Linked DNA regions of Homo sapiens. The protein of the gene in region 6 purifies or fractionates together with the protein of the main gene of each other region. This does not show direct contact. Each region holds a gene or a part of one and is shown on either strand. Other genes may lie near its edges. The genes, in order: DPCD, SLC9A9, TXNDC5, PYGL, PRMT3, PLOD2 and CTSB.

Region 1 (3,500 bases), on a different chromosome or scaffold from region 6:
TTTTGGTCACAGAAGTTTTTAAACAAATATTTTATCAGCCAGGATTTTGTTAAGTTCTTTTGTTAGTAGCATCACAAAATGATATTGTTAAGATTCCACCCTATCCCCAGACTGAAAAACAACTCAGTATTGCATATGTGGTTAAGCCTTGTCAAACCTGCAGATTTACCCCTGGGTGTGTAGGAGGGGTGTGGGGAGTAGGGGGGAGGTTACTCCCTTCCACCAAGAATCATGGCTATTGATATCTTGGGCTGGATAATGAGACTCCATTTTACTTTTGTTTTTTTAAGAAATAATTACATTCATTGTGGAAATATGAAAAATAAAGAAGTCAAATATAATATTACCACCCAGATAATCATAATTTACTTTTTTTTTTGAGACAAGTTTCACTCTTGTTGCCCAAACTGGAGTGCAATGGCGCAATCTCGGCGCACTGCAACCTTTGCCTGCTGGGTTCAAGCGATTCTCCTATCTCAGTCTCCTGAGTAGCTGGGATTATAGGCGCCCGCCACCAAGCCCGGCTAATTTTTTTTTTAATTTTTAGTAGAGACAGGGTTTCACCATGTTAACCAGGCTGGTCTCAAACTCCAGACCTTAGGTGATCCGCCTGCATCGGCTTCCCAAAGGGCTGAGATTACAGGCGTGAGCCGCCTCGCCCAGCCCATAATTTATATTTTTATACATAAACTTCTATATTATTTCATGCATACACTCACAGTTATTTTTCTTTTACAAAAATATACTAATATACTTAATAATTTATATATACATTTATTTCTAGAATAAATATACTATTAAAACAAAGTATAGATAAGTATCGAATAATCATTGGGTAAGGGAAGATGCTCTGAGTGCAACTTCTAAGGCAGTAACCACAAAGAAAGAAAATATATAGTTGGCTTTATAAAAACTAAACACCTGTGTTGGGTACCTGTAATCCCAGCTACTGGGGAAACTGAGGCAGGAAGCTCACTTGAGGCCAGAAGTTTGAGGCTGTAGTGTGCTATAATCATGCCTGTGAATAGCCACTGCACTCCAGCCTAGGGAACATAGCCAGACACTCTTAAAAAACAAAAACACTTGTTTGGGAAAACCCACTTTAAACAAAGTTAAGGGCCAGGCGTGGTGGCTCACACCTGTATTCTCAACACTTTGAGAGGCCAAGGCAGGAGGATCACTTGAGCTCAGGAGTTTGAGATCAGTCTGGGTAACATAGTAAGACCCCATCTCTACAAAGAAATTTAAAAATTAGCTGGGCATGGTGGTGTGCAACCATGGTCCCAGCTACTCGGGAGTCTGAGGTGGAGGATCACTTGAGCCCAGGAGGCAGAGGTTGCAGTGAGCCGAGATCACACCACTGCACTCCAGCCTTGGCAACAGAGCAAGACACTCTAAAAAAAAGCCTCAGTTGGCCGGGCGTGGTGGCTCATGCCTGTAATCCCAGCCCTTTGGGAGGCTGAGATGGGCAGATCACGAGCTCAGGAGATTGAAACCATCCTAGCCAAAATGGTGAAGCCCTGTGTCTACTAAAAATACAAAAATTAGCTGGGTGTGGTAGCATTCACCTGTAGTCCCAGCTACTCAGGAGGCTGAGGCAGGAGAATTGCTTAAACCCGGGAGGCAGAGGTTGCAGTGAGCCGAGATCACACCACTGCACTCCAGCCTGGCGACAGAGCGAGACTCTGTCAAAAAAAAAAACCCTCACTTTTCCTCATCTATGAAATACAGGTAATGAAAACACATAGGATTATTGTGAGAATTAAATTTGATAAGACATGTGAAATGCCTGGATTTAGTAAGCGCTGCATCCTGCCTGGACTCAAGGCTGGATGCCAAGGGGAGAAGATGGTCAGGCAAGACCCCCTCAGCTCCTCCCAGGCAGTACCTTGGATCCCGCTCCTGACAGGAGAGCCCTTTCTAATGCCTGTGAGCCATCCAAATGATTAAGGGTGGTATTACCTAGGGCTCTGCTAGAGGCCCTGCAAATTTAGGGGTGAGTTTATGCAGAATACAGATTAGGAATGGCTCAAGGGAACTGTATCCCAGAGAAGTGAATTGGACAGGAAAAAGGCACCTTGGGGCTCTTATTCATCAAGCATACATAGGGTACTTGTCTACTGGATGTTAGTGCTCTGTTACTAGTTTTACTGAGGAGTCTGCCTGTATCTACTTCCCTACCTATAAAAAGAAAGGGGAAATTACATAGCCACTCTTAAGCAAATGCTCCAGGGGTAGAGGAATTGGGCTAGGAGACTCCCTTAGTTTCTTCTTCTTCTTTTTTTTTAGACAGAGTCTCACTCTGTTGCCCAGGCTGGAGTGCAGTGGCACAATCTCAGCTCACTGAAACCTCCGCCTCCCGGGTTCAAGCAATTCTCCTGCCTCAGACTCCTGAGTAGCTGGGACTACAGGCACCTACCACCATGCCCAGCTAACTTTTTTGTATTTTTAGTAGAGATGGGGTTTCACCATGTTGGCCAGGCTGGTCTTGAACTCCTGGCCTCCCTTAGTTTCTTCTGTTCTTTCAACGGATAGTGCATCAGTGTTTATTCATCCTTTCAATCAGTATTTAGTTGAGCTCCTAGTATATGCCAGGAGCCACACTTGGTCTTTAGGAAACCATAGCATGGGGATAAAACCCCTCCTATCTAGTAGAAGAGATAGGCAGTAATCAAAGAGTCACATAAAAAGATGTAAAATCATAACCAAATTAAGTGCCATGAAGAAAATACATGGGGACTTAACATTGTGTTACTGTGTGATAGGAATGGCCTGGAGATATGCAGAAGAAGGCAGGGCACTGGCATGGCTAGAGGGAGTGCTTGGTCAGGAAACCCAATTCAATGTCCTGAACACATAGAGAGATAAATACGATGTCATTCATGGGAAGACAAATGCTTTTAAAAGTATCATGGTATGTAGTAAATGCTCCACTATGGATACGAGTAAAACATTAGGGAGGCACACATGAGGATGTGATTAATCCTACCAAAGTGGCTGGAGGTGATAGTGGAGGAAGACTTCCCAGTGGAAGTGACATTTGAGCTGGATTTTGAAGGGCAAAGAAGAGTTCCACAGATAGGAAAAAATATGGAGCTGTTGCTGGTAGAGGAAACAGCAGGGCAAAGATGTTCAAGGAAAGCTTCAGAAAGGGAGAGAGTCTCAGGACACGTTTTAAAGTAATGGTGGGTGGTGGTTGGCAAGGAGTTTGGGGAGGTCCTGGCTGGGTTCCTCAGTACTCCCAAGGCTGGCACTGTTTCCCAGGTAGGCCCCTTGATCTGCAAGGGACAGGGCAAGGGGAGACTTTGAGGTAAGGCATTCTCTGTTTTGTGCATAGGGAGAAGGAAGGTTCACTATTTATTCCCAGACGGCAAGGAAATGGCTGAAGAATATGACGAGAAGACGAGTGAACTACTTGGTAAGTGACAGAGGCTCCCAGTGGGCCTTTAGTAATACTTGGGGCTGACATAAGCACAATGAACACTCCTAGCCTTAGGCTT
Region 2 (3,374 bases), 2.8 Mb from region 6:
AGGTGTGTTCAGGGCACAGAAGCCTAAGGCAGTGGTTCTCAAACAGTAGTCTCCAAACCAGCAGCCTCACTTGGGAACTTGCTAGAAATGCACACTCTCAGGCCCCGCCTCAGAAACCCTGAGCTTGAACGATGATCTGTATTTTAACAAGCCCTCCATGTGATCCTGGGACAGGCGAAAGTTGGAAACCACTGCCCTAAAAATCCCCCGGCAAGGGCCCATTCTACAAGTAGTTTAGTATGGCCTTCCCAAAGCCAGTGGAGGAAGAGTTGGGATCTTAATTCTTTCAAGGGAACCTCTGTATGGAAAAAATTATTATTAGCCAGATCCAGTTAGCTTCTGGCATTATCCACTATGGTGACTTCCAGCCATTTCTAGACTTGTGATACTCTTCCCAAGAAATATGCTGAGAAGACACACTTTTAAGGTAAAATGTAACAGGAGGCCAGGCGTGGTGGCTGACGCCTGTAATCCCAGCACTTTGGGAGACCAAAGTGAATGGATCACTTGCAGTCAGGAGTTCAAGACCAGCCTGACCAACATGGCAAAACCCCGTCTCTACTAAAAATACAAAAATTAGCCAGATGTGATGGTGGCACATGCCTGTAATCCCAGCTACTCGCGAGGCTGAAGCAGGGGAATCACTTGAACCCCAGAGACCAGAGGTTGAAGTAAGCTGAGATCGCAACACTGCACTCTAGGCTGGATGACAGAGTGAGACTCTGTCTCAAAAAAAAAAAAAAAAAAAAAGTAGCAATAACTGTGTTTCAAGGATTTTTTGATAGGCAGGAATGTTACAAAACCAACATGAGAATCTTCCCCTATTCTGAGATCATAGGATTATGCTAACTCCTAATTCCTGTCAACCCTAGTTAATACCAGTGGTGGAAACATCCTTAACCCAAAGAGGAAATGAAAGTACCATGCTCTTTAACACCTCTTACCTCAGACTTAGAGACCCCTTATGGCTGTACAGCATCAGATATTCAATGCTGACTCAGGGAAAGGCTGTACCATGCCTGCAGCAGAAACATCAGCCAAGGCCAGACAGGGCAGTTACAGAAAGGAAAACATGCATTCTGTTTAAAAAAAAAAAAAAATTGTAGGACTGCTATTGTTTTCTGCCTTCATCATGAAGTGACACCTCTCTCTCTTTTCCCAACCAGGAACAGCTAAAAGAGGATGATGTGGAATGCATTGTAAACCAGGATGAACTAGCCATAAATTACCAGGAGCAAGCCTCCTCACCCTGCAGTCCTCCTGCAAGGCTAGGTCTGGACCAGAAAGCTTCACCCCAGACGCCAGGCAAGGAAAACATTTATGAGGGAGACCTCGGCCTGGGAGGCTATGAACTCAAGCTTGAGCAAACTTTGGGTCAATCCCAGTTGAATTAATTGGCATGAAGAGTACAGATGTAATCACAAGTAATGCAAGACTCACTGAGGAATACAAGCCAAGCTGATGAGGCAGTACAGGGGAGAGGCTGGAAAACATATTAAGAGCATAAATTGGAGAGAATCAAAGCCTTGTCACATGGATCCTCTGGTGCCTGAAGAAATGAGATTTTATTATCCCTCTCTATTATGCAAATGAATTTAGTTTTTTGACAGCAGCCATTCTGATTACTGGATTGGCTGGGGTGGGGATGGAGGTATCAGGAGTCTAGCTGCTGGAGGATGGGACAGCTGTGCTGGGTCTTCAGGGCATTTCTGCTGCGAATGCGGCTCTCCAGGCCCTTCACTTCTATTCTGGATTTTATTCCCTCCATTAAGGAGAGTTTAAAAATAAAAGAAAGCTTCTGAGAGTAAACATTTTGCTCCTAAGCTGAAGGGAATGCCCAGCTATTTAGTAAGTGATAAGTTTCTTATTTTGAGGACTTGACTCCCATTTGCTCTCAGTGACCCCAGGGCAGAGCCCAGAGAAGTGTTCCGTACCCACTGCTGATGGTTTCCCAGAGCCCACACTGAGTTGAAGAACCTATTGTTCTTCTTGGCATCCTTCTTATGCTACTTCTCCCATCGCTCAAAGGGGTTGCCTATGGCTGGGTGTGCCCTGCCCTAAATGCAGCACCACTTTCAAGCTTAGTAGGACCATTCCAAGAAAACCAGGTTTCTTCTCCCCATACCACGTTGTGCCTGAAGAACAAGCCTTCCCGTCCTTGCCTGCATGTGAGTCACTTCTTGGCTGTGCAGCAGGTCCCCCCCTCCCCGCGATATGCTGGAGGGTAGGATTCTGCAGCCTGTGTTGCTCTCTACCTGGCAGCAGACTGTGCAGGAGCCCCAACCTGTCCTCCAATTCCAGCATTCACAGCTGATGAGCAGTGCAGGAGCAGGGCGAGAGGAACAGAGCCAATGATGTGTGGGTTACACTGAGGAGCCAAGGACAGGGCCTCAGGTCTCCCCCTTACAAGGCGTGGCTCATGGCCTGCATTCCAGAGACCAACATGATAGCTTTTAATTCAGCTGCATGACCTGTGCCTTTTAAGCCATAAAGATACCTCAAGCCTAGCACCTCTTGAAATCCAGATGTTCATATTAGACTCGAAAAAATAGGCTCCAGGCCTAGGTGCCCAGGCTATGATGAGTCTGCTTTTGAAGGAGGTAGGGAATGACATCTTCCTTGGACCCAAAGCTTAAAAGTAATGTATGCTTTGCTGACCACTGTTTGTTAGGCCTTAAACAACATTCACTGTGGTGGTATCAGGCACACTGCTATGTGCATCAATTATTTTTTTGCTTTCCAAACAGAATCTCTGGGGCACAAGTTTTACACTCAAGCTAAGTATAACTTTGTCATTTCAGGTAAATATGACAAGTGGTGGAGCATGAAGTTTTCTAATTTGACTTAATCCTAATAAATTTTTGTTACAAAGTATGATTGTGTTTGGCTAATGCTTTATTTAAAGTCATTTTCTCTTTCCAGGTGATTTGGTGGTTCTAAGCTCTTGTACTCAGAGTGCCAGCTGAAGCAGGCACTGAAAGCTAATGTATGGGACATGCAGGGATCCTGTGGGCCAGAAACAGCTAACAGACTAGCAAGACAAGTCACTGAAGGAATGAAGAGAGCAGGGATGGACTGGGGAGGCGTCCCAGAGAAGGGAAACCTGAGTCAAGCAGAGGGGCACAGATGCCGCCTTTCCCACTAGGGATGACCAGGGTTCACAAAAGCTACAAAAATAGGGGAAGGAGATAGATAGATACTAGAGGAGAAAGAAAGAAAAGAAAGGCAAAAAGATAAAAGGTTCCTCTTTTTTTCTGTCCCTATCATGCTAAAAGGAAGGGAGGCGAACTTGGCGTTTTCTTTGTGTGGAGAAAGACACCAAGGAAAGAAAAGATCCACCCAAAAAAGGCAAACCTTAGTAGGGGGCAGGAGTG
Region 3 (3,500 bases), on a different chromosome or scaffold from region 6:
AGTGAATAACAACTTAGTCCTGCCTATTTTAGTGCTGGTAGAAAATAAAAAAGAAAGCAATGACTTAGAACAAGATGTTTCATGAAAATGTTGGGCAAGCAGCAGCTTTATGAGATTTAAATGAAAGAAAAAGCTTGAAGAGCTGTGCTTGTTGGTAAATTAAGTTTATAAAATTAAGGACGGATTATAATCTTGACATCTTTGCAGTCTTACCTTTATTATATACCAACTACTCCTGTTTAAAATTCACTTCTTGCTCCCTGTTGATTTTAAAACCCTCTAAGCTTCAGCATGAGAGTAAATTCTAAGCTGGCATGTGAACTGGTCTGGGTCCCAGTCACCGACAGCCAGGCTAACCCCCCTCCCACCACCACCAAATGTCAAGCCAGGGCCCTGACTCAAGCTACCAGGTGCTGACTTTACTTGCTCGAGTTAAAATGTTGCTTCCTAAAAACCGGCATGTTTAACTGAGCTATTAATACAATAAATCTTGCCTCTAAAGTCTTTCCTTTACTCCTTTTAGCTCAGGTATGTTTTAGCATAGCTTTCAGGAACATTCTCTTCAAAAACTGCACCTTGCTGGCAGAGTTGCTACAGAATGTGGATTTTGAAAAGAATATTTGTAACGTACAAAGTGTCCAGTAGCCCCATTAGCAAGAAGGTTCATGAAGAAACTGACTGGGAAGTTGATCTGCTTTTATTCTCAGGTTGATTGTACACAGCACTATGAACTCTGCTCCGGAAACCAGGTTCGTGGCTATCCCACTCTTCTCTGGTTCCGAGATGGGAAAAAGGTACGTCTGCACTTCTTAGTACTGAGAATTCTTCATCTCTTAACCCCATCAGGCTGAGCTACTGAGTGGTTTAATGGGCACAGTGAATTGCCAATCTTGATTGTTAGGGCACTGGTTTGGAGAAATGTGTATAATGAAACAAACGTCTTTCTCTTAATTGATAAGATTTGGGTTGTGGAGATGAACCTTGAAACATTTCAGTGGCCCAGGTTATCACTAGAATAACCCACATCTTACAGTCACAGGGTAACTGTGCTCTGGTTGTAAACACAAACCTTCAGGCCTTTGAACAGAGCTAAGGCTTGCACTTGGTCCGGTTCTGCCTGCCTCCCTCCCTCCTTCCCTGGCCGATGGTCAGCAGCTCAGAGTTCCCCATCAGCACAACGGCTTGCTGGCAGGCCTCTGCCCCAGACTTCTGTGATGTGTAACCCCGTGGAGGGAAGAGGGGCCTGTACAGTTCTCTCACCAAAGCCGAGGCATTCAGTTATCCTCTCTACATTCCCGTCTAAATATGAACATGCAGACTTTGCACCACCGCTAAGACATCTGGGAGCTCTGACCCGGGCAAGCAGGGGTTGCAGGAAGGCTTAAGTGATTCAGAACACCTCAGTGGACTCACTCAGCCGCGTGCCCGTGTCTTGGCCAGGTGGATCAGTACAAGGGAAAGCGGGATTTGGAGTCACTGAGGGAGTACGTGGAGTCGCAGCTGCAGCGCACAGAGACTGGAGCGACGGAGACCGTCACGCCCTCAGAGGCCCCGGTGCTGGCAGCTGAGCCCGAGGCTGACAAGGTGGGTGCCTGCTGGAGTCGGGATCCCCATAAGTGGCCCGTGGCCCCCGGCCCCCCACCTCCCCACCCTCAGAGGCCTCCTCAAATGCTTTGGACAAAATGACAGTTTGGGGACACAGTCATCTGATGGTTGGCTCCAGTTGCGTTTTCAACACGTATTTTTCATCGACTTTCACATGCTTTCAGGGGCGAATGCAAACAAAAGCTTTCCTTTTGAAAACATGAAATGGATGTGAGACAAATCCCAAGACAATATTTGGTGTCAAAAATCTCTAGAGAATCCTTCCTTTCCGCTTCATTCATTTTAAAGAATGACTCTGCTGGGCATGTTTCTGCTATGAAATCTCGACTGCTGGCCCCGGGGCCCTGATTCTATTCCTGACCTTGCTCCGGGCATTTTCCTTTACCCGTTGTAAAGGCCCCTAGAAGACCTGTAGCCAAGAGGGCATCCGCAGCGATCAGGCCAGTGACTGTAGCTGTAACCTGCCTAGGCAGTCCTGATGCACTGAGGGGCTTCCTTCCTTCACTCAGGTAGCAGGAGGTTTCAGATTCATTTGTTCTGCTTTATGAAGCCCTTGTTATGTCACAGGCACTGTTCTAGGCCACCAGGGAATAAAAATAAGACCGGTTTCCTGCCTCTGAAGCATACAGGTCTCTGAGGCAAATGGTGAGAAGACACACAAGCCAATGGCAGGGGGCTGGGGCAGAAATGTGTGCAGGGCTTGGCTGCTAGAGAGAAGTGGGGGCAAATGGGCAAGAAGTGTCCCTAAGGAGCTGATTGACGGGATCTGTGCTGGACAGATAGGCTGGGCAGGGCTGCCACTGAGGGGCTGCACCAGGAGAGGCACAACCCGAGAATCAGCCGGCATTTCTGCAGGGCCAGAGCTGGGGCTGGGGGAACACAGTGGGAGACAGGTCAGGGTGTGGTGTAGGATCCCTGAGAGTGAGAGAGGAGCTGGAGTTGAGAGTCTGTGGGCAGCTGGCCAAGGATTAGGAACTGTATCCCATATTGACAGGGAGCCCATGGAGGCTCTGTGCAGATTGGAGTTGTAGGAAAATGACCGGCATGCACGTGTGCTGGAGGTGGGAAGCTGCTCTATTAGGCCTTTAAAGATGATGCGTTCCCTCATGCTGCAGCCGTGACTGTGCGATGGCGAGGAGGAGAAAGCCAGCATAAGGAGTCCAGCCGCTGTGCAGCGCGGAGAGGGAGGGAGGGTCCGAGGCGAGTCTGATTCCCGCATATCTGGTGGAGGATGGTACCCAGCACAGGGGCGGGGCCAGAGCTCGAGGAAAGGGATGAGCTTGGTTTTCAAGGTGTTGATCTTCAAGGCTTTCGGCTGTGTAGGTGGCAGTGTCCAGTGGCAGTTCCAACCATGAGCCTGGGGCTGCGGCAGGAGGTCTGCACTGGACGAGAGTGCCCGTGTCATCCTCTTCAGGTAGAAGTCATGCCTGAAGGCCAGGAGTTTGGATTTGGAAAAACCAGTGGGGCCACCAACCCCTCCTCCCTGGTGGGGCCACACCAGGCCTCCTCACCCCTACAACCCTGTCCCTAGTTGGGCTCTTGTAGGTCGGGGATGGCCTGAGTGTTGTTTAAAAGTTGACGTTTTGGTTGAAGAAGTAAACAGCTGATTTTGTAGTTGTCAGGACCACTTATGTTAGAGGAGTGTATGTGTCATGGTGGTTACAAAGGTCATCCCAAATTGAGTATAATTATATACCACGGATGTTTTCATCGCAGCACCATTTCTATTTATAATGCAGTTTTCCACCATGAAGTGGGTCTTTTCAGTGCGTGTGGCGTCATGTTTCTGGACATAAAGATGGTAGTGTTCCACAGTGGCCCCCTTGGCCTCCGTCACTGACATGTTACTCGATGCCAGACTCAAATGGAGCAGCCCTGGTACACTTAGCCACGTG
Region 4 (3,500 bases), on a different chromosome or scaffold from region 6:
AGGAGAATGGCATGAACCCAGGAGGCGGAGCTTGCAGTGAGCCGAGATCGTGCCACTGTACTCCAGCCTGGGCGACAGAGCGAGACTCCATCTCAAAAAAAATGAATAAATAAATAAAAATAAATAAATAAAAATAATTTTTAAAAACTGCTGAAACTACATTTAAGATACTAGCAAAAGTGTTCTTCTCACATAGACTTTATAGACTCTTCTTTGAGTCAAACTATCCCATGTTCTGTGTGATACGTGAACTACACTGTGGTAGGTGACAGAGAGAAATACTGACAGAAACTGCCCATTTGGACTTGATTACCATCCCCAAATTGAAGTCATCTTTTCCTTTGAATTGAAAGAAAATTGGAGAAGACTATGTGAAAGACCTGAGCCAGCTGACGAAGCTCCACAGCTTCCTGGGTGATGATGTCTTCCTCCGGGAACTCGCCAAGGTGAAGCAGGTGAGCCTTCCAGGTGTGGGTCCCCTCCTGGGCACTCACTGTGAGAGTTTATCCTGTAGTTTTTGTTTATTTTTTGAGACAGAGTCTCGCTCTGTTGCCCAGGCTGGAGTGCAGTGGCACGATCTCGGCTCACTGCAACCTCCGCCTCCCAGGTTCAAGCGATTATCCCGCCTCAGCCTCCCAAGCAGCTGGGATGACAGGCGCCCGCCACCACGCCCGGCTAATTTTTGTATTTTTAGTAGAGACAGGGTTACACTATGTTGGCTAGGCTGGTCTCGAACTCCTGACCTCAAGTGATCCACCCGCCTCGGCCTCTCAAAGTGCTGAGATTACAGCCATGAGCCACCACACCCGGCCTATCCTGTAGTTTTTAAAAACAGACCACCCAGCCGGGCGCGGTGGCTCATCCCTGTAATCCTAGCACTTGGGCAGCCAAGGAGGGTGAATCACCTGAGGTCAGGCATTCAAGACCACTCTGGCCAACATGATGAAACCCCGTCTCTACTAAAAATACAAAAATTAGCCAGGCAGTAGTGGTGTATACCTGTAATCCCTGATAGGATAATCGCTTGAATGTGGGAGGTGGAGGCTGCGGTGATCTGAGATCATGCCACTGCACTCCAGCCTGGGCAAAAGAGTGAGACTCCGTCTCAAAAAAAAGAAAAACCAGACCACCCAATTCTTCTAGGCCAAAAGAGCTCTGGCACCATGCACTGTCTTAACAGGAGAATAAGCTGAAGTTTTCTCAGTTCCTGGAGACGGAGTACAAAGTGAAGATCAACCCATCCTCCATGTTTGATGTCCAGGTGAAGAGGATACATGAGTACAAGCGACAGCTCTTGAACTGTCTGCATGTGATCACGATGTACAACCGTGAGTCAGCCCTGTAGCCAACAAGCCCCCTTGCAGGTGGAAGCAGCAGACTCAGCATAGGTCTCACTGCCCTGACCGTCAGCTGTCTTCCATTTCATCCACTTCTCCATCTTTTTCAGGCATTAAGAAAGACCCTAAGAAGTTATTCGTGCCAAGGACAGTTATCATTGGTGGTAAAGTAAGTTGAATCTATTCAATGGGGACTTGAGGGCTCTAATCTCTTGCCATTCTTCTACTTCATCATGGCTGCCTTCTGTCAATGCGTTTGACCTTCTTCCCCAAAGGCTGCCCCAGGATATCACATGGCCAAAATGATCATAAAGCTGATCACTTCAGTGGCAGATGTGGTGAACAATGACCCTATGGTTGGAAGCAAGTTGAAAGTCATCTTCTTGGAGAACTACAGAGTATCTCTTGCTGAAAAAGGTACTACCCTCATTGCAAAATATGCAGGGGCCAGGGCAAACTCTAGAGATTACATGGTATGAAAGATGGGGCAGCCAACCTCCAGGAGCTAGTAACTTAGGATAGAAGGTGTCACTCTTGTGCAGAATAAGGGCCTACGGTAAGAGGTTTTAAAGTGACCCAAGTCACAATGAAATTGATGTCCTGGAGTCAGTATCACAGGATTATACTTGCAAGTACATTTTCTTCCAAGCCAGTGAGAGCTATGTGCTGGGGGAGGCAGCCCTGGGGTTTCAGCATCATTCAGAACCCGCTCTATAAAACAGAGGAAAGGTCTTCAGTTCCCAGCCCCAGTTTTGCAAGAGAACACCAAATCCCCAGTCTTCAGATATTTCTTTGGTCACCCTGTGAGAAGAAGGGCTGTCACTTGCTCTTGTATCAATAATAAATGAGGGCAGATGTGAGGCTGCCAAAGCACGAGGCTTAGATGTGCCTCACATGGGCACTTCAGCATCAAGCATGATGCTCCCACATGGGGACAGCCAGATGGGCAAGAAGCCAGTGTCCCTTTCTCTTCCACTGGGACCTTTGGTTATTTGGGTCACAAGCTCACAGAGCACCATCCACATGCAAATGCCCAACTGTGTATTCACCCACTTCCCAAACTGAAAAGGTAGAAAGGGAGCTTTTTCTTTTTGTGGTGTTTTTAGGTCCTCTGATGTTACTGTTTAAGAACTCTCTGCATAAAGGGAGAAGAGCCAGGTTCCTAGGGATGCAAAAGAAGATACATCTAATCCACAAATAAGCTCTCACAGTAAAGCAGAAAAGTGGTCCTGACCTTTGTAGTCAAAGGAAGTGCTTCAGGCAGCTCTAATTTGCGTGCAAATCAGCCTGAAAGGTCAGAGGCTAGATGTCTAGCCCCAGGCACACCTCAATTACGTGTGGCTTATTTCCCTGCAGGAAAAGTGGAAGGAAGGAGGTGAGAAGTAGAAGGAATGCAGACAATCCAGTCTCCTCAGGTTGCCAAAGAGGAGTCCTGGAGGGACACTCTGAATGTTATGGATCAAGAGAGAGAAGTTCAGCCTGGGCAGCATAGGGAGACCCCATACATACAAAAATTTTAAAAAATTAGCTGGACATGGTGGTGCTCGCTTGTAATTGCAGCTACTTGGGAGGCTGGGGCAGGAAGATTGCTTGAGCCTAGGAGGTCAAGGCTGCAGAGAGCTGTAATCGCACCACTGCACTCCAGCCTGGGTGACAGAGAGAGACCCTGTACCAAAAAAGAGAAAGAAAAAAAGAGAAATTTCAATATATTTTATAAAGTAGAAGAAATAAAAATAAAACTGTAACAAAAATTGGAAGGAATAAAAGGAAGAAGAGAAATGTAGTATCAATGTTTGTCGCAGTCAATAGATACTCTTCAAAGTTTATAGCTCGAGAAAGAAATACAAGCATATAAAATGGACAAAAGTGGTTGCCTGAGTCAAGGGGAAAGAGTGTGATCTGCCTTCTAGACCATTTGAATGTTTATCTTAATGTGCATGTATTACTTTAATTATCAAAACAGCCCAACTTAATAAATGCTTCAATACAATACAAGCAGATCTAGACAGACAAAATTACTAATTTTAACTTACCTTTCTTGCAGTCATTCCAGCCACAGATCTGTCAGAGCAGATTTCCACTGCAGGCACCGAAGCCTCGGGGACAGGCAATATGAAGTTCATGCTAAATGGGGCCCTAACTATCGGGACCATGGATGGGGCC
Region 5 (3,500 bases), on a different chromosome or scaffold from region 6:
AATTATCTAATGATTAACCTGAACTCCATAAAGTTTGTAGAACTATCTGACTGGTAATCTTTATTATGTCCACTATTGGTGAACATGTCATATGAGATAGTTTTATATCATTTTCTTAATATAGAGGAATAGGTCAGATATAAAAGCTAAAGCCAAATATACACATTAACATATATACGTACACAAAAATTGTTATATTTTGTTGAATGGATTGCACCTTGGGCCACATTATTTCTTCTATTATTTAACTCCTTAATTATGTGTTAAACTGTGAGTCTCACCTTTTTTGCAAAGATGTAGAGAAGGTATCAGTAATGGAATCTTTATATTCTGAAAATAAATATAACAGGTGGTTATGTTTTACTTGTGTTATTTCACTACCATCTTGAAAAGCATTCAGATAATTTTCCTTGAATATGGGGAATTTGTATTTTTTTAAATACGATATTCATTCAGTACTTCAATAGTTTTATGTAGATTTCCTTGGTCATTATATGGAGCCTCATTGTGTCCATGCAGATGCTAAAGCTATTCCTGACACTGTTTGGTGTTATCTTAATATTATTTAAGCAAAGAATGGTGATCAACTACAACTTAGCAATTTGTTACTTTTTAAACAGCTCTTTAAAATAAATGAAAAATTAAATGAGAAGTATTTATAATTAGAAAAGTACATAGATAAAAATTTGGAACCTACAGAATTTAGGAAATCAGCCTTTGCACAGGTAAGTAATTTTTGTGTGTTCACTGTTTCACATGGGTACATTGTTTCCCTTTTACAGCACCAGTGCATCAATGGCCAATGGCTTTGTCATGTGCCTCTACATTTTCCCAGCTATAATTTTCAGTTCCTCAAAATGCCATTCCTGAAGGTTCTGTGTATGTGTTTTCCTTAAATACCATTACATGTACATCCCTTAAGCCTGGTTCTCCATGACTTCAGCCCTGGCATTGGGTAATTCATTAATTCTTGTGAAACCTTGCCTTTAACTGCCTTCCAACCATCCCCAGTGCTCACCTCCAGCACACTTTAGACACATGCCTATTGTGTAATTGTTAGTATAGCTTTTTTCTTCACCCTGATCACAAACTCTTTGAGGGCAGGGACCATATCTTTTTTCTAGATGCCCAGAACCCACCATAGGGCCTCATATTTAGAAGTTCAGTAAAATGCTTCCATTGACCCTTTATGACCACAATAGTTTTACTCACTTTCACAAGGATTTGACACTGTGGTATGTAGTTAGTTCTCGCTTCATTCAAAAATTAATGAAACAGGGCTGGGCGCAGTGGCTTACGCCTGTAATCCCAGCACTTTGGGAGGCTGAGGTAGGTGAGCGCATCACCTGAGGTCAGGAGTTCTAGACCAGCCTGGCCAAAATGGCAAAACCTTGTCTCTACTAAAAATACAAAATTAGCAGGTCATGGTGGCGCATGCCTGTAATCCCAGCTACTTGGGAGGCTGAGGCAGGAGAAATCACTTGAACACGGGAGGCAGAGGTTGCAGTCAACTGGGATTGTACCACTGCACTCTAGCCTGGGCAACAGAGAGAGACTGTCTTAAAAAAAAAATTAATGAAACATAATGCTGCTCTAAAAAATGAATATTGGCTGGGCACAATGGCTCATTCCTGTATTCCCAGCACTTTGGGAGGCTGAGGCGGGTGGATCACCTGAGGTCAGGAGTTCGAGACCAGCCTGGCCAACATGGTGAAACCCCATCTCTACTAAAAATAAAAAATTAGCTGGGCATGGTGGCATGCGCCTGTAGTCCCAGCTATTCGGGAAGCTGAGGCAGGAAAATCTCTTGAACCCAGGAGGCGGAGGTTGCAGTGAGCCAAGCTTGCACCAGTGCACTCCAGCCTGGGAGAATGCAGTGAGCTGAGATCACACCACCGCACTCCAGCCTGGGTGACAGAGTGAGACTCCATCTTAAAAAAAAAAAAAAAAAAAAAGAATATTAACCTTAAATAAAGTTTAAAAAGTGGGAAAACATCACAATAAAAAGAAGTGCTAGTTATACATTGTTTACTTTTCTGCTACACTGTATTCCTTGAATTCTTAACAATTTTTGCCTTTGTTTTACAGGTGAAGCCTTGAAAGGAAAGGTCACAGTTCACAAGAATAAGAAAGATCCACGTTCTCTCACCGTGACCCTCACGTTGAATAATTCAACTCAAACTTATGGTCTCCAGTGAAACAGCCATAAAAGCACACTACCTTGTAGTTTTTAATGTGGGGGTAGAGTGGGTCAGCAGGAGGGAGCTGGTTTTATGTGAGCAGATGGATGGATGATGGACCCTTTCCTAATGAGCCTCCTCAATAAGAGAGAAGTTCTCATTGTGGGAATCTGACATAGTTCAGCTGAGGAAGAGAATCAGCTGATCCTCATGGTCTGCCACGTAATCATTTTCTTAGACGTTTGCTCCACCAGATTTAACCAAATGTAACTCCCACATTGAGTTTATCTATATTGAAAATCATTTACATTGGCCTATATTTGGAAGAGAGATAGTCTTTTGTTTTTAATAAGTTTCTTACTATAAATTTTAAACAAATTGGTTAGTTATTTGGATATTTTATTAAACTAGTAACACAGGTACTACACATTTTATTATGGACTCCTCTGAGGAGGAGTTTTTAATTGTATTTGCTAGAAAATCAGGATGTAATAAAGATTTGTATAAAAAAACTAAAATATGGAAAAGAGCTTCAGCCTTCATATACAAATCATATATGCAGACAGCCTAGTTGATTATCTAGCATACTTAGGGTTCTCATTTTGTAGTTTCTTCCCTCTTTGTGACTATTCCTTAGCCTTATAGATTTCTAGTACTGCCCAGGAAATCTAATTTCAATACATTTATCCTAGGTTTCATGAAAGTTTTTAAAGATTGGGATAAATATGTACTTATTTACTAACGTATTATCTTTTTCAAACCAGATTTATGTGCAAAGGTTAAACATGTAACTGTTACTAAGCAGTCTATAAAGTTGTCATTTACAATTACTGATTCAATTTGAAATGTAGAATAAAATTTTAATAAAATGTATCAACTTATAAAATATTTTAAAAATATTGATATTATAAAAGTTTTCAATAAAATATATCAAACAACATTATAAAATATTTCAACAGGGTATGGTAGCTCATACCTATAATCCCAGCATTTGGGAGGCCAAGGCAGGAAGATCACTTAAGCCCAGGAGTTTGAGAGCAGCCTAGGCAACACAGGTCTGTACAAAAAATTCTTTTAAAAAAATTAGCCAGGCATAGTGGTGCATGCCTGTAGTCCTAACTACTTGGGAAGCTGTGGTGAGCAGATTGCTTGAGTCCAGGAGTTGGAAACTACAGTAAGTCAAGATCGTGCCACTGCACTCCAGCCTGGGTAACAGAGAAAGACTCTGTCTCTAGAAAAGTTAATTAATTAAAAGTAAAAAACAGGGCCAGGCATGGTGGTTCATGCTTATAATCACAACACTTTGGGAGGCCAAGGCAG
Region 6 (3,500 bases):
AATCATGCACACACTTTTCAGCAAATATATTCTTTTCAATCTCTAGAAGTGAAAATCTAATATTGGTAAAAAAAACTTGTATTTAAAGCAGAATAATAGCTATTTCACACAAAAAAACTCATGCAATCAGGAATACTGGAATGTTCTGGCTGTTAGTGTTACTGTTGGCTTAATTATAAATTTTAAAACCTATCAAAACAACCCTTAATTATAACCATTAAAAAGTTAGTAAACTAAATCCCCTTTCCAAGCTTTTAAATAAAGAGTATTACTCTTCTATCAACCATAATGTGAGTATGGTAAACATATATTATCTCTTAGTATTCCCCACAGCAATGAGCTTGTTCCTTTGAAGATTTGGGACTTTAAAAACATTTTTTTAAGATATTAGTTTTATACTAGTATTTCAGGATTCCAAGTGGTCTTGGGTTCTCAAATTCCCATTAACTATAAAGAAAAGAGATGAATGCAAAAAAAATTTCAAGTAATACTAACAAGACTACATCTTTAGATTATGGTATTTCACATTAAAATATTAAACCAAGTAACTTACACTCTATTCCCTTGAACAATATCCACATAATCTTCAGATCGTGCATAGTATCCATCAGGACTCAATGCTCCCCAGAAATTGGACCACAGCTTTCCATGACGAGTTACAAGAGGAGCAATGATCTTTCTAAAGACAGAGAGAGTGTGTGTGAGAGAGAGAAACCTATATAATTATTTATTTTTAAATTACCACAGAATTATGTATTTTGGGCTTAGTATGACATATAACACAAGAAAGCTCATTCAACAAACCTGTAGTTAATAAAAATAAAATAAGGATCTTCTTTCCCAACATCTTTTCTTAAGTAAGTATATTGCTAATTTTCAATCATATTTCTTAAAAAGAGTAACAAAGAAGGAAAAAGTAATTGAAAATGCTAATGAATACATAAAAATGACTTTTAAAAATGCCTTGCTTACATCCAACAGAGGGAAACTACTTTAGTTATTTAATTATATTTAAGTTTAACTAAAGTATTTCGGAACCTATATTAAATGAAACCAAATATTTTCATTGTCACTGGGTGAACAACAGCCCCTGGTGCATTTAAGATATTCAATGAATATTTGTTGAATTTGTAAAAAATGAATGAAGATGAACTGAGATGTTTGTAAACAGGCAAAGCTTTCCTGTAATTAAGTCTCAAATTACTTAAGTATGTTTCCAGTTTTCCATGACTTTAAAAAATGACTTGTGATTACAGTAAGCTAGTCCTGGCAACACTGAACTTTCCTTTAACTATTTTAGAAAGCAAATTTATGGAACAACTATTCTTTATATGAAAAAAGAAAACCTATTTCACCTCTATCTTGTGAAGACCAGCCGGGCCCTTTCTATTACATGCACAAAAGTGAAATAAATAAACACACATCGGGCCCGGCGCAGTGGCTCATGCCTGTAATCCCAGCACTTTGGGAAGCCGAGGCGGGCGGATCACAAGGTCAGGAGTTTGAGACCAGCCTGACCAACATGGTGAAATCCCATCTCTACTAATAATACCAAAAAAAGTTAGCCAGGCATGGTGGCACGCACCTATAATCCCAGCTAATCAAGAGGCTGACACAGGAGAATCGCTTGAACCCGGGAGGCGGAGGTTGCAGTGAGCCAAGATCATGCCACTGCACTCCAGCCTGGGCGACAGAGCAAGACTCCATCTCAAAAAAATAAATAAATAAAAATAAATACACATCATGCAAAATAATAAATTTTGGTTTATTCTTCCGAATTCCTACTAAACTATTAATCAGAAACACATGTTTTGTTTTGTTTTGAATACCTACAATACTGGAAATAATAACATGAATTAGAATCTACATACATTAATTTGGGAAATAATTCAATATGAATATCAAACATTTAATTTAAAAAGAACTTGTAATTTATAATCCCAGCTGCCTCCTGAAAAGGTTTAAACCAACAAATTTGGGAAACCAAAATTCATCTGCTGTATACCTCAATGTTTTTGTGAATAAAAATGTAAGGATGGCAGCTGAGGAATGATTCATATTATTATACAATTTAAGGAGTAAAATTTAGAGCAAGGGAGCAAATAGAGATAGGGAGAGAAGAGGAAAAAAGAGAGCTGATGAGAAGGTAGAAAGCCACATGCCCAAGATGTGTCAAATCTCTTTCTCTACTCTTCAGTCCAATCTACTAAATCTTGCAACATTCCTGGCATATGTCAATAGACTATAGAAACCACATGTCTAGATACAGAAGCAAGAACCATAGGTATTACATAAACCTAAACCTTTGATTAACTAACAGAATTCCATGGAGACACAGCCTGAGTTTTACTCTTTAAGGGGCAAGGGCCCCAGATGGCAGGTAAGTCTTTTTCTTTTTTTTTTTTTTTTTTTTTTGAGACGGAGTCTCGCTGTGTCGCCCAGGCTAGAGTGCAGTGGCGCAATCTTGGCTCACTGCCAGCTCCACCTCCTGGGTTCACACCATTCTCCTGCCTCAGCTTCCCGAGTAGCTGGGACTACAGGTGCCCGCTACCACGCCCGGCTAATTTTTTGTATTTTTAGTAGAGATGGCGTTTCACTGTGTTAGCCAGGATGATCTCGATCTCCTGACCTCGTGATCCACCCACCTTGGCCTCCCAAAGTGCTGGGATTACAGGCGTGAGCCACCACACCCGGCCGGGAATTTTTTTTCTTTTAGAAGATTTAAAATGTTTAATATTAAGAGGGATATATGTCAAATACATAGTGTAAATTCATTAAATAGTTCACTAAGAGAATAATTAATAAATATATAAATTATAGTCATAAAATGAAAATATCTAATTATTAAAAAGCATATGGGCATTACACACTATAGCATTTCAATCAAATTAAGAGAAAACAATGCAAATTCAAGAAAATAGTACTGAATTAAACTAGGTTTTAAGAGTTACAAATCATACACTATTTCATATCTCTAGGGTGTCACAACTGCTTTTCCTTGCCAAATGATCAAAACCTCATTCATATGCTTTGGAAAATTACCTACGATGTATATAGATAGTTAACTTAGATACTGAGTATCTATAACACAGCTATACAGTTGGGCTGTATATACAGGTTGCTACAGAGAGGTCTTAGATTTTTGAAGTAAGAACTAAATTCTCAAATTTACAAATTCTAGTGATATATATATATAGATAGATATTATATATAGGGTGGGTTAATAAAGCATACTACATTTCCCATGTATCTTACTTAACAAAATAAAAACAATCATTCTAACATTTCACCCGCTAAACATTCTATTTATTATGAGAAATAATTGTGTTAATACATGTACTTACAACAATACCTGGCACTTAATAAGCACTTGTTAAAGGTGAGGTCTTAGCAGGAGTAGTAAAAATGGTATTATTAGTATTAGCAGTAGTATTGACAAACAAACTTAGTATCATTGTAAGCTGATATACATGGTGTCTTTTTCCCATTTCAATTGAGTT
Region 7 (3,500 bases), on a different chromosome or scaffold from region 6:
ACAAGACATGCCGAAGAAGGCTGCAGACAGGTGTCCTTGGTAATTTCATAAAACAAAAGGAAATTCTGTTGCTCAATGCACCTTTTGATTTTTTTTTTGGGTGGGACGGGAGGGTGGGAGTGGACAGAATTTCACTGTGTCATCCAGGCTGGAGTGCAGTGGCGAGATCTCTGCCCACTGCAACCTCTGCCTCCTGAGTTCAATCGATTCTCGTGCCTCAGCCTCCTGAGTAGCTGGGATTACAGGCATGCACCACCACACCCGGCTAATTTTTGTATTTTTAGTAAAGACAGGGTTTCACCATGTTGGCCAGGCTGGTCTTAAACTCCTGGCTTCAAATGATCTGCCTGCCTTGGCCTCCCAAAGTGCTGGGATTACAGGCATGATCCACCACACCTGGCCTGACTTGCGATATTGTACGCTTCTTTCTAGGCTTATGTAATGGATTTTTTAAGATGAATTTATCCACAAATTATAAACTCATTTTTAAATAAGTTTATTCAGTCCAGATAGTGTTTCTTGCCCTGCTCTCCTGCCTCAACCTCTGCCCAGGATCCTCTCATCATTTCTCATATCATCCCCATTGTGCAGAAGGCAGTGTCGTGCAACTTAACTACCCCATCCTCACGTGGGAAGTGGCATCATCTCAGCTCACCGCAACCTCTGCCTCCCGGGTTCATGCGATTCTCTAGCCTCAGCCTCCCGAGTAGCTGGGATTACAGGCGCCCGCCACCACGCCTGGCAAAGTTTTTTATTTTTAGTAGAGACGGGGTTTCATCATGTTGGTCAGACTGGTCTCGAACTCCTGACCTCAGGTGATCCGCTTGCCTTGGCATCCCAAAGTGCTGGGATTACAGGCGTGAGCCACCATACTTGGCCTCATCTGGCTTTTCTTAGATTTCCCTTAAATTACTCAAGATTGAGTCTGCCCACATAGTGGGGACCCAGACCTTGTCTGTCACATCTGCGGCTGAGACACCTTGGAGAAGCACAATAGAAAACACTGGGGGTGGCTCATGCCGGTAATCCCAGCACTCTGGGATGCCGAGTTGGGCAGATGACTTGCTGAGGCCAAGAGTTCGAGACGAGCCTGGCCAGTATGGCGAAACCCAGTCTCTACTAAAAATACAAATATTAGCCGTGCACGGTGGTGCAAGCCTGTGGCCCCAGCTACTCAGGAGGCTGTGGCATGAGAATCGCTTGAACCCGGGAGACAGAGTTTGCAGTGAGCCAAGATCGTGCCACTGCACTCCAGCCTGGGTGACAGAGTGAGACTCTCTCAAAAACCAAAAAAAAGCACCAGCATCTTCTCTACTAATAACTTGAGAAGGAAAAAATAAAATAAAAAGAGAAAGTAATATAAAAATGAAAAGAAACAAGTACTGTACCTCAAGCGGTGTCGGCAGCCCTGGGCAGCATGAGCCCTGCGGACGCCAGAGAGGCCTTCACTCTCCCACTTCCCACTGCCCCAAACCAACGCCTGCCACTCACATTACAGCGGTGCAGAGGAGCAGGCACTCACCTCTGGGGTGGCTTGGGCCCACCCAGGAAGGTACCACATAGCCTCTTCAAGTAGCTCATGTCCACGTTGTAGAAGTTGTGCCCGGCCTGGAAGAGAGTCACCCACTGACTGAAGGGTCTCCCGGGATGGCGGTGGATGGGCACGCTGCCCACACACGAAGCCCAACCCAGGGAAAACCAGAGACCCTACCCAATTCAAGGGCCCAAGGGTTGGGGGGCACTGGGGAACAGCCCAGAGTGACACACGGGCAGAGTGGGTGTCTCCCCTGATCTGCTCCCATTTGCTGACAATCAGAGACCCTCTCCAGCCCTCAACATGGCTCACTCCTCATTCTTGGTTCTCAGTCCGAGGGTCAGGGCTGGGCAGAGACAAAGGGAATCAGGGGCGGGACTGATAAACTGCCACTGTGCCACGGCGGGCGTCACAGGGGCTAGCTGGTTTTGAACACTTCCGAAGCTCACTTACTCCCCCACACACCTCCACGTGCACACAACCATATATTCATACACATGCACACACACTCATGCACACACGTGGGGTATGGGACAAAGGAGGGAGGCGTGGTCCAGAGCCGACATGACTCAGGGTCAGGGCCATTTTTCAACAGTCCAGGACAATGTTCTGTGGGCCACAGTGAGGGCTGGCTTCCCATTCCTGGAGTCAGTGTGCACAGACCGACCTGGGAGGGGACATACATAGGACGCAGCCCCACAGCCTACCTGCCACGTGGTATTCCGTTTGTTGACATAGTTGACCAGCTCATCCGACAGGGGATGGAAAGAGGGCCTGCTCCGGGCATTGGCCAACACCAGCAGGCAGCAGAGGGAGGCCCAGAGCTGCCACATGTTGGAAGCCGGATCCTAGATCCACCTGGAGAGGACAGAGGGCATCAGGACACCTCTCTGTTATGTGGGTCGAGGGCTCACACACACAGGGGCACCGTCTCGGGCATCAGTGGGGACCCCCATGCTCGTCCTGGCCCAGGCGGAGAACTCTTAAGGAGCTGAGGTGTCTATGGGATCCCCGCCCCCCTGCCCGAAGCACGCCATGACCTCGTGTGGGTCCCCGGGGGCCAGGCGGCCAGAGCCCAGAGAGAGAGCCAAGGGGCTGTGCTGGACGAGACCGAGTCCAGGGCCTTCGCTGCTATTTTTAAACGGCCTTTGCATGGATTTGTAGAACAGCTTGAGACACTTTCCCAAGTGAGTGATATGAAACAGTTAAGAGCCTGTCTGTGTGATTACACCCTAAGTGGAGGACCCAGGGGACAGGGAAATGTAAGAAAAGTTACAATCCAGGAGTCCTAGTTTCGACAGGACACAGACAAACAAGCTCGGTGTGGGCTGGTGGAGGTTGAGGCTGAGAGGTGGGGCTGGGCTGGCCATCCACCCACTCCCGGGGCCTCTCTGGTTTTTCCAGTCAGCCAAGGGCTCTGCTTCCGGCTGCGGAGATGAGGCTTCTGAGAAGGAAAACTCTCACCTCGATGCCCCAGCCGTTTGATCTTGCACTGGCTCATGAGTCACAAGCCAGTGCTTTCCAGCTTGAACTCTGAGTCACCCTCCTAAGTGAGCAGCTCAACAAAAGCAATACATGTCTCCTGGGCGCCTGCATCCAGGGCTGGGGAGAGCCGCGGCGCGGGGAGCTGGGTGAGGCAGGGGTTCCTGTCAGTCACTCCAGGGGCTCCCACGGGTGGGTGAGGTGTTCTACCTCCCACAGGTCACAGGTCGTCATGAAAGTCACAGGACTGCGGTGTCAGTGCTTAACAAACTGCCTGGCACCTAGGGGTTCTATCTGAAGAACAATTTAAACTTCATTGTTGCTTAAGCAACAATTCATCTAGGAGAATAAATATATGAGGACAGCAAGATGGCTCTGGAAAAAAGCTTTTTTTTTTTTTTTGAGACAGGGTCTTGGTCTGTGGGCCATGTCACCCAGTCTGGGGTACAGTGGCACAATCTTGGCTCACTGCAGCCTCCACCTC

What was found.
Region 1: the proteins of PLOD2 (region 6) and DPCD fractionate together in Homo sapiens (co-fractionation; one large-scale study listed by BioGRID). This does not show direct contact.
Region 2: the proteins of PLOD2 (region 6) and SLC9A9 fractionate together in Homo sapiens (co-fractionation; one large-scale study listed by BioGRID). This does not show direct contact.
Region 3: the proteins of PLOD2 (region 6) and TXNDC5 fractionate together in Homo sapiens (co-fractionation; one large-scale study listed by BioGRID). This does not show direct contact.
Region 4: the proteins of PLOD2 (region 6) and PYGL fractionate together in Homo sapiens (co-fractionation; one large-scale study listed by BioGRID). This does not show direct contact.
Region 5: the proteins of PLOD2 (region 6) and PRMT3 fractionate together in Homo sapiens (co-fractionation; one large-scale study listed by BioGRID). This does not show direct contact.
Region 7: the proteins of PLOD2 (region 6) and CTSB fractionate together in Homo sapiens (co-fractionation; one large-scale study listed by BioGRID). This does not show direct contact.

What each region holds. Positions count from the first base shown.
Region 1 is NC_000010.11:101,591,321-101,594,820, forward strand, and holds part of DPCD (protein DPCD), read left to right. Parts: intron 1-3,337; coding exon 3,338-3,418; intron 3,419-3,500. UniProt on the Homo sapiens protein: May play a role in the formation or function of ciliated cells.
Region 2 is NC_000003.12:143,264,722-143,268,095, reverse strand, and holds the end of SLC9A9 (sodium/hydrogen exchanger 9), read left to right. Parts: intron 1-1,166; coding exon 1,167-1,394; 3' UTR 1,395-2,874; downstream 2,875-3,374. UniProt on the Homo sapiens protein: Endosomal Na(+), K(+)/H(+) antiporter. Mediates the electroneutral exchange of endosomal luminal H(+) for a cytosolic Na(+) or K(+).
Region 3 is NC_000006.12:7,886,789-7,890,288, reverse strand, and holds part of TXNDC5 (thioredoxin domain-containing protein 5 isoform 1 precursor), read left to right. Parts: intron 1-707; coding exon 708-794; intron 795-1,440; coding exon 1,441-1,584; intron 1,585-3,500. UniProt on the Homo sapiens protein: Protein disulfide isomerase of the endoplasmic reticulum lumen involved in the formation of disulfide bonds in proteins. Can reduce insulin disulfide bonds.
Region 4 is NC_000014.9:50,909,984-50,913,483, reverse strand, and holds part of PYGL (glycogen phosphorylase, liver form), read left to right. Parts: intron 1-353; coding exon 354-455; intron 456-1,180; coding exon 1,181-1,328; intron 1,329-1,447; coding exon 1,448-1,506; intron 1,507-1,612; coding exon 1,613-1,754; intron 1,755-3,381; coding exon 3,382-3,500. UniProt on the Homo sapiens protein: Allosteric enzyme that catalyzes the rate-limiting step in glycogen catabolism, the phosphorolytic cleavage of glycogen to produce glucose-1-phosphate, and plays a central role in maintaining cellular and organismal glucose homeostasis.
Region 5 is NC_000011.10:20,506,216-20,509,715, forward strand, and holds the end of PRMT3 (protein arginine N-methyltransferase 3), read left to right. Parts: intron 1-2,088; coding exon 2,089-2,198; 3' UTR 2,199-3,123; downstream 3,124-3,500. UniProt on the Homo sapiens protein: Protein-arginine N-methyltransferase that catalyzes both the monomethylation and asymmetric dimethylation of the guanidino nitrogens of arginine residues in target proteins, and therefore falls into the group of type I methyltransferases.
Region 6 is NC_000003.12:146,081,185-146,084,684, forward strand, and holds part of PLOD2 (procollagen-lysine,2-oxoglutarate 5-dioxygenase 2 isoform 1 precursor), read right to left. Parts: intron 680-3,500; coding exon 554-679; intron 1-553. UniProt on the Homo sapiens protein: Forms hydroxylysine residues in -Xaa-Lys-Gly- sequences in collagens. These hydroxylysines serve as sites of attachment for carbohydrate units and are essential for the stability of the intermolecular collagen cross-links.
Region 7 is NC_000008.11:11,851,088-11,854,587, forward strand, and holds part of CTSB (cathepsin B isoform 1 preproprotein), read right to left. Parts: intron 2,393-3,500; 5' UTR 2,368-2,392; coding exon 2,242-2,367; intron 1,609-2,241; coding exon 1,523-1,608; intron 1-1,522. UniProt on the Homo sapiens protein: Thiol protease which is believed to participate in intracellular degradation and turnover of proteins. Cleaves matrix extracellular phosphoglycoprotein MEPE. Involved in the solubilization of cross-linked TG/thyroglobulin in the thyroid follicle lumen.